3 linked regions of the Homo sapiens genome follow. The protein of the gene in region 1 interacts with the protein of each later gene in a biochemical or structural test. Each region holds a gene or a part of one and is shown on either strand. Other genes may lie near its edges.

Region 1 (3,751 bases):
CCTGGGAACTTTAGACCAGTAGGAGAGAAGGCAACAAAGTGGCCACTAGGACGCCTCAGCTTTTGTCCTCATTCGCGTCTCACACAAAATGATTTGGGAACTCAAGGTGTTCTTGATTCATGTTATATGTCATTATTCTCTTTCTCCCTCATACAAGTAAGTTTTAAACACAGCAGAAGTTGAGTTTTATGATAGTTATGTTATCCAGGTCCAAACATTTCCTATGTGTTGAGGGTTCTTACCAGGACTTTCTAAAAGTCTGGTAGACCTTGGACTTGTTAAAAGCAGCAGGCAGTTCACTTAGTAAGATGAACCTTGCTAAAATAAACAGGTAATTTTTTATTTTGAGTGAATACTCATGAATTTTACTTCTTAGTAAACTCCAGTTCCATAAAGCCTTCCCCTTTCTACAGAGGAAAAGTTGTTATATTTCAGAATTTTTGCTTGCTGTTGCTTCATTCCTAATTTATGCTTTTAGTTTCTGTTGGCAAGCATTCTCAGAGGTGGTGAAGCATAAGAAGATGAAGAAAAGACCTTCATACTTTGAAATCTTAATAGCTTTAAGAAACATATTTCTTATAATCTATTTTATTAGGTTTCTCTCCTTATGGATAAAATAAGGCATGCTTTAATACAAGTGATATGACTTGTTATTTCAGGCTTATGCTAGAACATTGCGGACCTTACGTCACCAGATGTACTTTCGGACGGCTTGACATTTATCTAATCTGTACATTATCTCGTTGTATATGTGGCAGAGATTTACCCAAGGACTGACAGTACGAGTTGCTAGGATAATTTGAATGTGTTTTTTTGTTGCAGAAGAGGACGAGTCAGCATTAAAGAGGAGCGAGCTTGTTAACTGGTACTTGAAGGAAATCGAATCAGAGATAGACTCTGAAGAAGAACTTATAAATAAAAAAAGAATCATAGAGAAAGTTATTCATCGACTCACACACTATGTAGGTGCAGAAGTGCGCGTGCTCTGGTATCAGGGAGGGAGGGAGTTCATGCCCTGTATCTGCAGGTTCACTAGTGAAATTTTTTTTGACCTTTGTTTGTTTTGAATCATTGGAGTGTAGTCAGAAGTATGAGTTGTAAAATAAGAGAGAATGAACAGCAGGTAAATGACTTATTTCCTCTGCTGAAACAAGCAGAATTTAGGTTAAATCTCAGAAGGTGGGATTGAAGTCTTACTAGTTAGGTGTTTTAAGCTTCTGTTTCCCATCCTCATATTTGCCCTTGGTCGTACTGCTGTCACCTACTTTCTATGTTTCATTTTCCTCACATTCTTAGTTCCCACCTTACCCAACCCAATAGTCAATCTTCCATCTTACTTGCTTGGCGAAACCCCAAACTTGGTTAAATATAACTTTTTTTTTTTTTTGTATCCTTATCTAAGCAGCTGAAAGTATCTGGAGAAAAGCATATAATTATGAGCCCAGTCTTATTTAAATCGATGACCAGAAATCTCAAGTGGACAGTTCTTACTGTCTCATCAACCTCATGACAGCACTGCCCAGTGCAATTCCTTTTCCCGGGTCAGTTCTTTGCCTCACTCTCTCACAGGCCCATCACATACCTTCTCTCCACTCCTGTCAGCTGGCCATTCTCAGTACTCAGCCTGTCCACAGCTTTGTCACAGTTGATCACTCCTACAAATAGTGTCTTCCTCACTTGGTTCTGAGTCACTGTATCCTCCTGGGGCTTCTTTCTCACTGGTTATTCCCTCTTAGTCTCTTTCCCTGAATGGTTTTGTTTTTTTTTTTTTTTTTTGAGACAGAGTTTCGCTCTTGTTGCCCATGCTGGAGTGCAGTGGCATAGCTCACTGCAGCTTCCACCTCCTGGGTTCAAGCGATTCTCCTGTCTCAGCCTCCCAAGTAGGATTACAGGCGCCGGCCACCACGCCCGGCTAATTTTTTAATTTTTTTTTTTTAGTAGAGATGGGGTTTTGCCATGTTGGCCAGGCTGATCTAGAACTCCTAACCTCAGGCGATACGCTCACTTTGGCCTCCCAAACTGCTGGGATTACAGGCGTGAGCCACCGTGCCTGGCCTGAATCTTTCTCTTCTTACTTTACTCTCAGATAGTTTACATTCATTACCTAAGTGATCTCATTTGGTTTTATGAATTTATCCATCTACTGATGACTTCCACATTTATGTCACCAGCTCTCACCACTCCTGTAAACTCCAGATGTATAGAGCTGGTTGCCTACTGATGAGCGTTTAACAGGCATCTCGTGCTTAATGTGTTCAAAAACAGAGTTGTTCTTCCCTGTTTGCAGTTGAGTTGTTCTTACTCAATTGCTATAGGCCAAATGCCTTGGAATTGTCTTTGACTCCTTGATTCCACTCTCCCCTCACAGCTCCTCTTCAGCAGCAAATCCTCTGACCCCCAGCTTCAGTGTGTGTATATTTTCTTTTCTCTTTTTACCGCCTTCACCAGCCCACCCAAGCCACCAGGCATGGACTGTTGCAGAAGCCTCATAAAATTGTCCTTTTTTTGTATTGGCTTCTTGCTCAGCAGCCAGATAAGTCTTTTTAAAATATAAATCAGATTATTTTACTACCCTCCCTTCCAGTGCTTCTCTCACATTAGAAGGAAATTCAGCCTCCTTGTCATGGCCTGCAGAACTATTATACAGTGTAACCCCTGTCCCCTCATTCACCTAATTTCACAGCAGTCTTCCCCATACCCATTTCACCCCAGTGACACTGGCCTTGATCCCTAGGCACACCAAATATGAGGGCCTTTGCACTCACCCTTTGTCCATTTCCCTAGATATCCTCCTCCTCTCCAATGTCTGCTCAAATGTTACCTCTTCAAAGAAACCTTTCTTGCTAGCCTGCCAAAATAGTAGCCTTCTGCTCTTGCTGTCACCCTGCCTTGTATTTCTTCGTAATGTTTAACATGGCCCAGCAGTATATTCTTTATTTAAGTGGTTAGTTTGTCTCTCTTATGGAATATAAGCTCTGTGAGGGTAGAGACTTTGCCCCGGAGCTACAGTGGTACCTGGCACATAGCAGGATCAAATATATGTTGAATGGTTAAATTTTCCTATTATGTGGCAGAGATTTAACTGTCGTGCCAATTCACAGGGCTCACTATATAAATATTACAGAGGTCATGTATTGGGGTTGTGTCTTCTCAAAAACCGTTTTCCTGTGAAGGTAGATCAGTCTGTGATTATTGAGGGGTAGGGAGGTGTAAGAACAGCTACTCAGATCAGGGTCCAGAGTTGCTTTTCTAGTGGTGGGACATGTCTGTGTGCTCCTTGGGATCAGTGTAAAGTAAAACGACCCAGGCAAGGAATCTGCTTCAGGACTTTGGAACACACTGTGAAGCTAACTGATCTAAACTTGAATTACCTATTTATTTATTTATTTATTTATTTATCTTTTGAGAGAGTCTTGCTCTGTTGCCCAGACTGGAGTGCAGTAGCATGATCTCAGCTCGCCGCAACTTCCGCCTTCTGGGTTTAAATGATTCTCTTATCTCAGCCTCCAGAGTAGCTGGGATTACAGGTGCCCGCCACCACTCCCAGCTAATTTTTGTATTTTTAGTAGAGATGGTGTTTCACCATGTTGGCCAGGCTGGTCTCAAACTCCTGACCTCAGGTGATCCACCCACCTCAGCCTCCCAAAGTGCTGGGATTACAGGCATGAGCTACTGCGCTCAGCCTGGATTACCTTTTAAAATTTGGCTTACCACCTGAACTAATTTGCTACAGAAAACTAGAGAGCTTATA
Region 2 (3,751 bases), on another chromosome or scaffold:
CTTGGCTCACTGCAACCTCCGCCTCCCGGGTTCAAGTGATTCTCCTGCCTCAGCCTCCAGAGTAGCTGGGACTACAGGCGTGCGCCACCAGGCCCAGCTAATTTTTGTATTTTTAGTAGAGATGGGGATTCACCATGTTGGCCAGGATGGTCTCCATTTCTTGACCTCATGATCCGCCCGCCTTGGCCTCCCAGAGTATTGGGATTACAGGAGTGAGGCTCCACGCTGGGCCTCAACTAATGATATTTTCAATTTACAATGGGTTTATTGGGATGTAACTCCATCCTAAGTAGAGTAAGTAGAGGAGCATCTGTACAAAACAAGCTCCCTACCCTTCCACTATGTACCTAAGAGCAGGACATACATTTTCAAAGGTGTCCCACCTCCTCTTTCTACCAGGGACAAAAGTTAGTCACCAGAGACAACTTTAGACCCTTATCAGCCAGCGATGGCGCTAGAAGAACCTACATAACACACTTTACTCACTACCTGTAACTACCATTAGTTTCTCGTATCTCTGCCTTCCCACTCTGCTGTTTTTGGAAACTTCAAACTGCTTTCGCCATTTCTCCCCAGTTATTGTTCTTTATTGTAAATGCTACGTAATTCCCCCATTCTAAGCCACCTGTTTGAGTTACTCTTCCTTGAGTTTTGCCCATATAAGATGTACATGTTACTAAATTTTTCTTTTGCCAATCCGAGCTTTGTGATAAGGGCCGCAGTGGAGAACCTAGAAAGGTAGAAAGATTTTCCCCCCTTCCTACAGCCCCAAGGAGGGTTTGAGACACGGGTTCCGTTTTTTTCCTTCAGCTCCTCACTTTGTAGATTCCATTCAGGTCATTCCCCTTCCGTCACCATGCCCTTTTTTCATTGAGTAGATATATCTGATGGGCCTGGGGTTTTCTTAGGTACATTTCAGGCCCAGGGGAGACACAGTTTCATTCTTTTTTTCTTTTTTATCGGACAGCCTCCTGAACCAGAAGAGGTTCAGAGCGACTCCCACAGTTTCACTCTTGAACTTGGGTATTTTCCAAATTGCCTCAGCAAAAGGCTGCTGTAGTCGGTCTTCGTAGCTTCCTTCTCCAGGGTATCCTAGCGGCGCGCAGTGCAGGAGCCTCGCACCGCTCCCCGACGGCGGCTGCCAGCTTCCAGACAGACGCCGACCCGGTGTTCGCAACCAGGGCGCAGGCCGGGCCCGGAGCGTTTAGAGCGCCCGCCCCTCGGTAAGGAACCGTCCCTGAGCCACAGGGCCTGACGCGACTGCAGAAGGAGCGTGGGGTCCTCCGAGGTTCCCCTTCTCTAAATGTGCACCTTCCTCAGGGAGACCTTGTGCAGCTGAGGGAAAAGTCACCACTCAGGGTTTCGGGCCGGGGACCCAAATAAAAGTGCTGCCATCAGCAAAAAAAGAAAAAAAAGGCACGAAGAGGAGGTGGGCGGATTCCCAAGGCGGTTTCGCCCACTAATTTTGCCCAGAGATGACTCTGAGGTCTCTGAGCTTAATGCTTTTCAGCTGTTGTGCAGACTCGCTTTGCCCTCTTATAAGCCCACTATGGGAGTTCCCGCTACACGCCGGCCCAGGGGTACAAACGACAACGCGCCGCCCTTGGAGCGCGTCGCCGGGCCCCGCGCTGCGCAGCCTCCAGCGGCGCTGCGTGCCCTTCCTTTTGCCCGTCTCCAAGATGGCGGCGCCGCCGCCGCCCCTCCTCCTCGCCGCGCAGAGCCGCGCTGCGCCGCGCGCTCCCGCCGCCCCTCCCCACGCGAGCTCCACCCAGGTCGCAGGCAGCGCGGTCGGCGGCGGCTATTTCCCGCCATTGTGCGAAGTGAAGGCTAGGGGCCCGTACGCGCCCGCCTGACTGTCGCCAGCAGCTCCTCGGCGGCCCCACCGCAGCCGCCGCTCCCTGAGGCGCGGGAGGCCCGCGCCCCGCGGCTCGCTGTGCGTGGGAGGGCGCGAGCGAACGCGGGCGAGGAGCGGCCGAGCCGCTGAAGAGGAGCTGGGCGCCGGCCGCCCGGCCGCGCTCGGCCCGCGGATCGCCTCCGCCCGGTCTTCGCCGGCCCCGGCCCCTGGCGAGATGCCGTGTGGGGAGGATTGGCTCAGCCACCCGCTGGGAATCGTGCAGGGATTCTTCGGTGAGTGGCGGCGCCGGGGGGCGGGCCGGGCGGGCAGCCGAGTTTGCCGGGCCCCGGGGCAGGGCCCCGCCGCGCGGCCCCCACGCGGTACCATCTCGAGGGCTCGCGTGGCCCGAGACGGGGCCCCGGGGCCTGCACCGGCCCCAGCTGGGACAGCCTCTCCCCCGGTCGCAGCAGGCAGGGGCAGGAGCCGGGCCGCAGGTACCTCCCACCTGCCCGAGTCGCAGCTTGGGAGCCGCCAAGGTGAAGTCGTGGGGCGCGGGCTGTGATTCGCGGGCTGTGATTGACGGCCTCGCTCCCAGCCTGTGGCAGGGCCAGGGCCCCGGCCCCGGGCGCAGCAAACTCGGAGGTCCTCGAACCCTGGGGAGGGCCCGCAGAGCCGCGGGGAGGGAAAACCACTTTGCCTGTGGGAAGCCCACAGGATATTTCAAAACTTCCGGTGCGTCGGGGAGTGCTCGCTTGCACAGAAGTTGGTTCTAACTCCTGTGCTACCCTCATTCTCTCTTTCAGAGATAAGATTTAATGTTCATAGCTTAGTTTTCCTGTTGGGATGACTTTAGAACCCATCTAGTCTGGATCTGCTCCTGTGCCAGAGCCAGCAAGAAATATTGAGCTACTTGAGTTTGTACACAGGGCTGAGAATCCTGCAGGCGAGCTTAGTAAATTTTGGTTGCGATTGCTGTTGCTACTTTACTGCGAAGGGTATACGAAGAAAAGTTTATATTTGTTGTCGTTAACTGGGCATTTTGACAACCGTTCCATTCCCCAGTGTCTTTTTACACGTAATGAGTGGCGGAGTCAGATCCAGCTAGAAATCACTGTAGATGGCAACACCTGACTTGTCTGGAGTTAACTTAGAGTTGTAGAGCGGCCTTAGCTCATTGAAAAAAACATCTTGGGGTACTAGAGAGAAAAGGCAGTGGGAAGCTAAATCATCCTCAGCAGCCAAAATCGACGGCAAACAATGTATGGTATTTCTTATAGGAGGGCCTCTAGTGCTTACTCAGGAAGTCCTTATTAATTTACCTGTAATTCTAATTAGTTTAGTTACCTGGCTTCCCAGGCTGTAACTAATGGCATTATATTAGAAAAAAGCCTGGATAGACGTCCGAACTTAGCCAGTGAACACTGACAGCCTGATGAAGAAATTTAAAACTACCTTCATACTTGAAAAAAAAAAAAATTCACTATATAGCAGTCAAGGGTGCTTTGAGGAAGGGGCATATATTTCTCCACTAAATCCTAGTAATTTATGTTCATAAGAATTCTAGAAATGATAATCGATGGTCAACACAATGGCCCCAAAATGTCAAGTGAAGATTCAATTGTAGCATTGGTTTAAGAGGGTGCAGATGCATAGATACTTTTTAGGAAAAATCCCTCCAAAGTAAAAAGGTTTGGTGCTTAAAGGGTTAAATTTCAGTTACTAATATTAGAAAGTTTATTTATTAGAAATACCCCATACTCTGATTTTGCTGGATAAATGAGATGATTTCATATTTGATAGAGATTTGAATGTATTTGTGTCAAATTTTGTCTTCTAAATGTATGATCCTAAGGGACACATCTCATCATAGTACAGGAAGGATGTAACTTAGATATAAAATAATAGCTTCAGAGTATT
Region 3 (3,751 bases), on another chromosome or scaffold:
GTTGCCCAGGCTGGTCTTGAACTCCTGGGCTCAAGCAGTCCTTCTGCCTCAGCCTCCCAAAGTGCTGTGATTACAGGCCTGAGCTGCCATGCCTATCCTGATTCATCTATCTTTGAAGTGCCTCTAAAGTTTCCAAGTTGGGATTCTTAGTGTGAAAACCATATTGAATTAATTCAAAGGAAACTTTTCATGGATTTATATTATTATTTTTCCTTGAAATCTTTATAATAAGAACATTTAAAAAAACTGGGACTTGCTTTGTTTTTAGAATTGCCATGGGACCAACCCAGTGACAGCTGTCAGGAGTATTCTGACTGGAAAGAAAAAAAAACATACCTCAACCCTTGGAAAAAAATCGATTCTGCTCCTCTAGGTAACTGAATTATCTTGAGTGAAAGAGTACCGATTTCTTGGATATGAAGTCTTGTGCTATTTGAATTTTTTCTTACTTTTTTTTTTGTTTTAAACTTACAAATAATTCATGTTCGTTGTAGATAAAATAGTAACTATAAGTAAAAAATTAAGGAAAAAATAACTCTTTAGTCCCAGAACTCTGCAATAGATTTTTAAAAATATTTTGGGGAGTGTATATTCAGAGCAACTTGAATCTGCTCTTAGATGGCTTTTTACTTAAAGTTTTCATATGTGCTATACTTTGTTGCAAATACACTCGTTTGTTGCTTAATTATAGGGATGCACTCTAACAAATGTTTCATTAGGTGGTTTCATCATTGTGTGAACATCATAGAGTATATTTACATAAATCTAGATAGTATAGCTTACTATAAATCTAGGCTATTTGGTATACCCTATTGATCTCAGGCTGCAAACCTGTACAGCATGTTACTATACTGAGCACTGTAAGGAATTGTAACATAATGGTATTTGTGTATCTAAGTATAGAAAAAGTATAGTAAAAATACAGTATTATAATCTAATGGGACTGTCTGTTATACGTGTGGTCCATTCCTGACTGAAACATCATTAATGTGGCCCATAAGTATGTAAAATGAATATATGTATATTATTTATATGTGTTTTTATACAAAATGAGATCACACTAATAATATTTTGTAACTGTTTTTGGTTTTAGTGCGCAGCGAACATTCTTCCATGACTATAATTGTAGGTCTACATCGTTGGTTTAAAGGCTGTGATAATATTCTGCCATGTGGATATGCCTTACTTTACTCTTTTAATCACTTTGTTGGAGATTTTTCTAAATTTTCACAGATACAAAAGAGATATAAGTATCTGTGTAACTTAATCATGACACATACCCTTAAATTGTTCATTGAAATCCCCAGAAGCAAAATTGCAGGATCAAGGATGTAGTTTTTATTATTATGGCTTATTTTGTCAAATTGCTTCCCGAAAGTTCGAACCATTTCATCACAGTCTCATCAATTTACATTAAGGAAAAAAACTTTAAATAATAGTTTTTCATTTTTATTTTAAATTTAATACTAATGAAGTTGTATACCCTTTATGTATGTATTAGTTTTTTGTCTATTTTGCTCATTTTTGTCAAGGATATTGTTTTTCTTACCACTTTGAAGCTTTTTTTTTTCCTTGATAACACATTGACCTTTGCACTTGTTACAAATACTTTTCACAATTTATCATTTATTTTCATTTTGTTTTGCTATATTGACATTCAAATCTATTATCTTGTCCTTTGTGGTCCCTGACTATAATTTCTTTGGAAAGGTCTTCTACCTCTACTATTTAAAAGTTCCCTATGTTTTCATTTAGTGTTTTTATGGCTTCATTTTTCCATTTAAATCTTTGGTCCATTAGGAAATAATCTTCACATAGGAAGATACGTGAATTTTTTCTCAAGAAAATTAAGATACCTTAGGATGGTTAGTTAGATTACTGTCTCTTAAAAAGTTATTGGTAAGTAAATGTTCATTATAAAACTGTGTGAATAAGGAGGTCACGTGAGAACATGACATTGAAGTAATGAAATTCGGTATTGAAAATGGATAAGAGGGGTTTCTGTATCTTTTTGTTAATCTCGTCACATGAGGAGAAACATTTCCATCTGGCTCTTGTTCTCAGTTGCAAACAATTGAGAATCAGATCAGGGAAGACTACTCCAAGATACAGCAGCAGAGAAAAACTGCATGAAATTAAAGCAGTAATTTAGTAGCTTTAATTCTTTCTCTTCCCCAGGAATAATATTTAGACATAAGTAGGCTAACAGAAAATGTGTTTCTTACCTCAAGCCATAGGCTTCTCTAACATGATTCTTTCGTGAATGTTGTCGTAATGTTTGTTTTTAGCTCTGCTGCATAAAATCTTAGTTGAGAATCCATCAGCAAGAATTACCATTCCAGACATCAAAAAAGATAGATGGTACAACAAACCCCTCAAGAAAGGTAATATCCTTAAACTACAAGTTTGTTTGTTTTTCTGTGGAAGAAAAGGTAATTGCAAAGTTATTATCACAAGTCAACAACACATGATAGCTATGATCTCTGTCCTCATGGAGATTATAATGTCCAGTAGAAAAAAATACAGAAATAATTTTGTTTATTAATAATTATAAAGGGGAAAGTCAGGGTACTATAGCTAAGTGTTTGACCAAGTCTAAGGGACAGGGAAGACTTTTCTTCCTGAAGAAATTACATTAAATCTAAGATTTGAAGATTAAAGGGAAGCTAGGCAGGCAAAGTAAGTGGCAGATTTGATTCTGAACAGGGGAAGCAGTATTTGAAAAATCTTAGATTTTAGAAAGTCTGATGCTTTTGAGAAACTTGAAAGATCAGTATGGCACAAGCCGTGTCTGTTGTGTTCATCATTGTATCATCAGTGCTTTAGCACAGTATATGGTGCACCATAGGCACTCATTAAATATTTGTTGAGTGAGTGAACAGGGAAGTGGGAGAGGAAGACAGGTTTGAGATGAGGCCAGAGAGGTCGCTAGTGGCCAATTTGTGGAAGAAGACCTTGTAAGCCATGTTAAGGATTTTGGGCTTTAACTTAAGACCACTGGGGAGACCTCTGAGAGATTTTAAGCAAGACTATGACATAGTCATATCTTCGGTTTAAAAATATTTCTCTGACTTCCTTATTTTTTTTCCATTGTTTTTTATGAATAGGGAAAGATTCAGGGTGCTGTAGGTTTTTCTGCTAGTTGTCTAGAAGTGGGAGGCTGGTGGCTTGGAATAGGTTAGGGCAATGGTATTGGAGAAATGAGATGATTCCAAAGAAATTTAAGAACTAGTATTGATAGGACTGTTAGGCTGTGAATGGAAGGAGAGAGGACAATGACTAGAGATGATGAATGAAAAACATTCAGAGAGTTATTAATGTTTAACTCTGTCCTCATGGATAGAAAAGAGTTAATGTTTAAACATTCACTCTTCTTTAATACCTCTCTGCATGTTTCTTCCTCCTTGTCCTAACTTAAAGTCCAATTCTCCCCTGAGGACACTGCTTCCTCTGAAGCGGTAGGTGTTTTCTTTCCCATACCCTCATGTCCTTTGATCTGGACATGGTACAGGTGTCCTCCTTATTCTTCATTGTCACTTTCTCCCATCTTCCTTTATGTCTCTCCCCTCTAACTTTTGAACCCCAAATTAAAATTTCTGCCGTACTATCACAGTCTGCAAAATGACTCTTGATGTTATTTTCGTCATGATTCTTGGTGATTTAAATATTTATTTGGATCATCCTCCTGATATCCTGACTTCACTGTTTCTTGACCCTCTCTCCTATAGTGATGTTGTCTTTGAACACGCTG

Evidence for each region.
Region 2: the proteins of MCM6 (region 1) and MCMBP form a complex in vitro, tested with the Homo sapiens proteins (2 studies listed by BioGRID).
Region 3: the proteins of MCM6 (region 1) and CHEK1 form a complex in vitro, tested with the Homo sapiens proteins (2 studies listed by BioGRID, with this or other methods).

Annotation. Positions count from the first base shown.
Region 1 is NC_000002.12:135,841,756-135,845,506, reverse strand, and holds part of MCM6 (DNA replication licensing factor MCM6), read left to right. Parts: intron 1-822; coding exon 823-962; intron 963-3,751. UniProt on the Homo sapiens protein: Acts as a component of the MCM2-7 complex (MCM complex) which is the replicative helicase essential for 'once per cell cycle' DNA replication initiation and elongation in eukaryotic cells.
Region 2 is NC_000010.11:119,870,903-119,874,653, reverse strand, and holds the start of MCMBP (mini-chromosome maintenance complex-binding protein), read left to right. Parts: upstream 1-1,810; 5' UTR 1,811-2,069; coding exon 2,070-2,127; intron 2,128-3,751. UniProt on the Homo sapiens protein: Associated component of the MCM complex that acts as a regulator of DNA replication.
Region 3 is NC_000011.10:125,635,161-125,638,911, forward strand, and holds part of CHEK1 (serine/threonine-protein kinase Chk1), read left to right. Parts: intron 1-268; coding exon 269-373; intron 374-2,288; coding exon 2,289-2,384; intron 2,385-3,751. UniProt on the Homo sapiens protein: Serine/threonine-protein kinase which is required for checkpoint-mediated cell cycle arrest and activation of DNA repair in response to the presence of DNA damage or unreplicated DNA.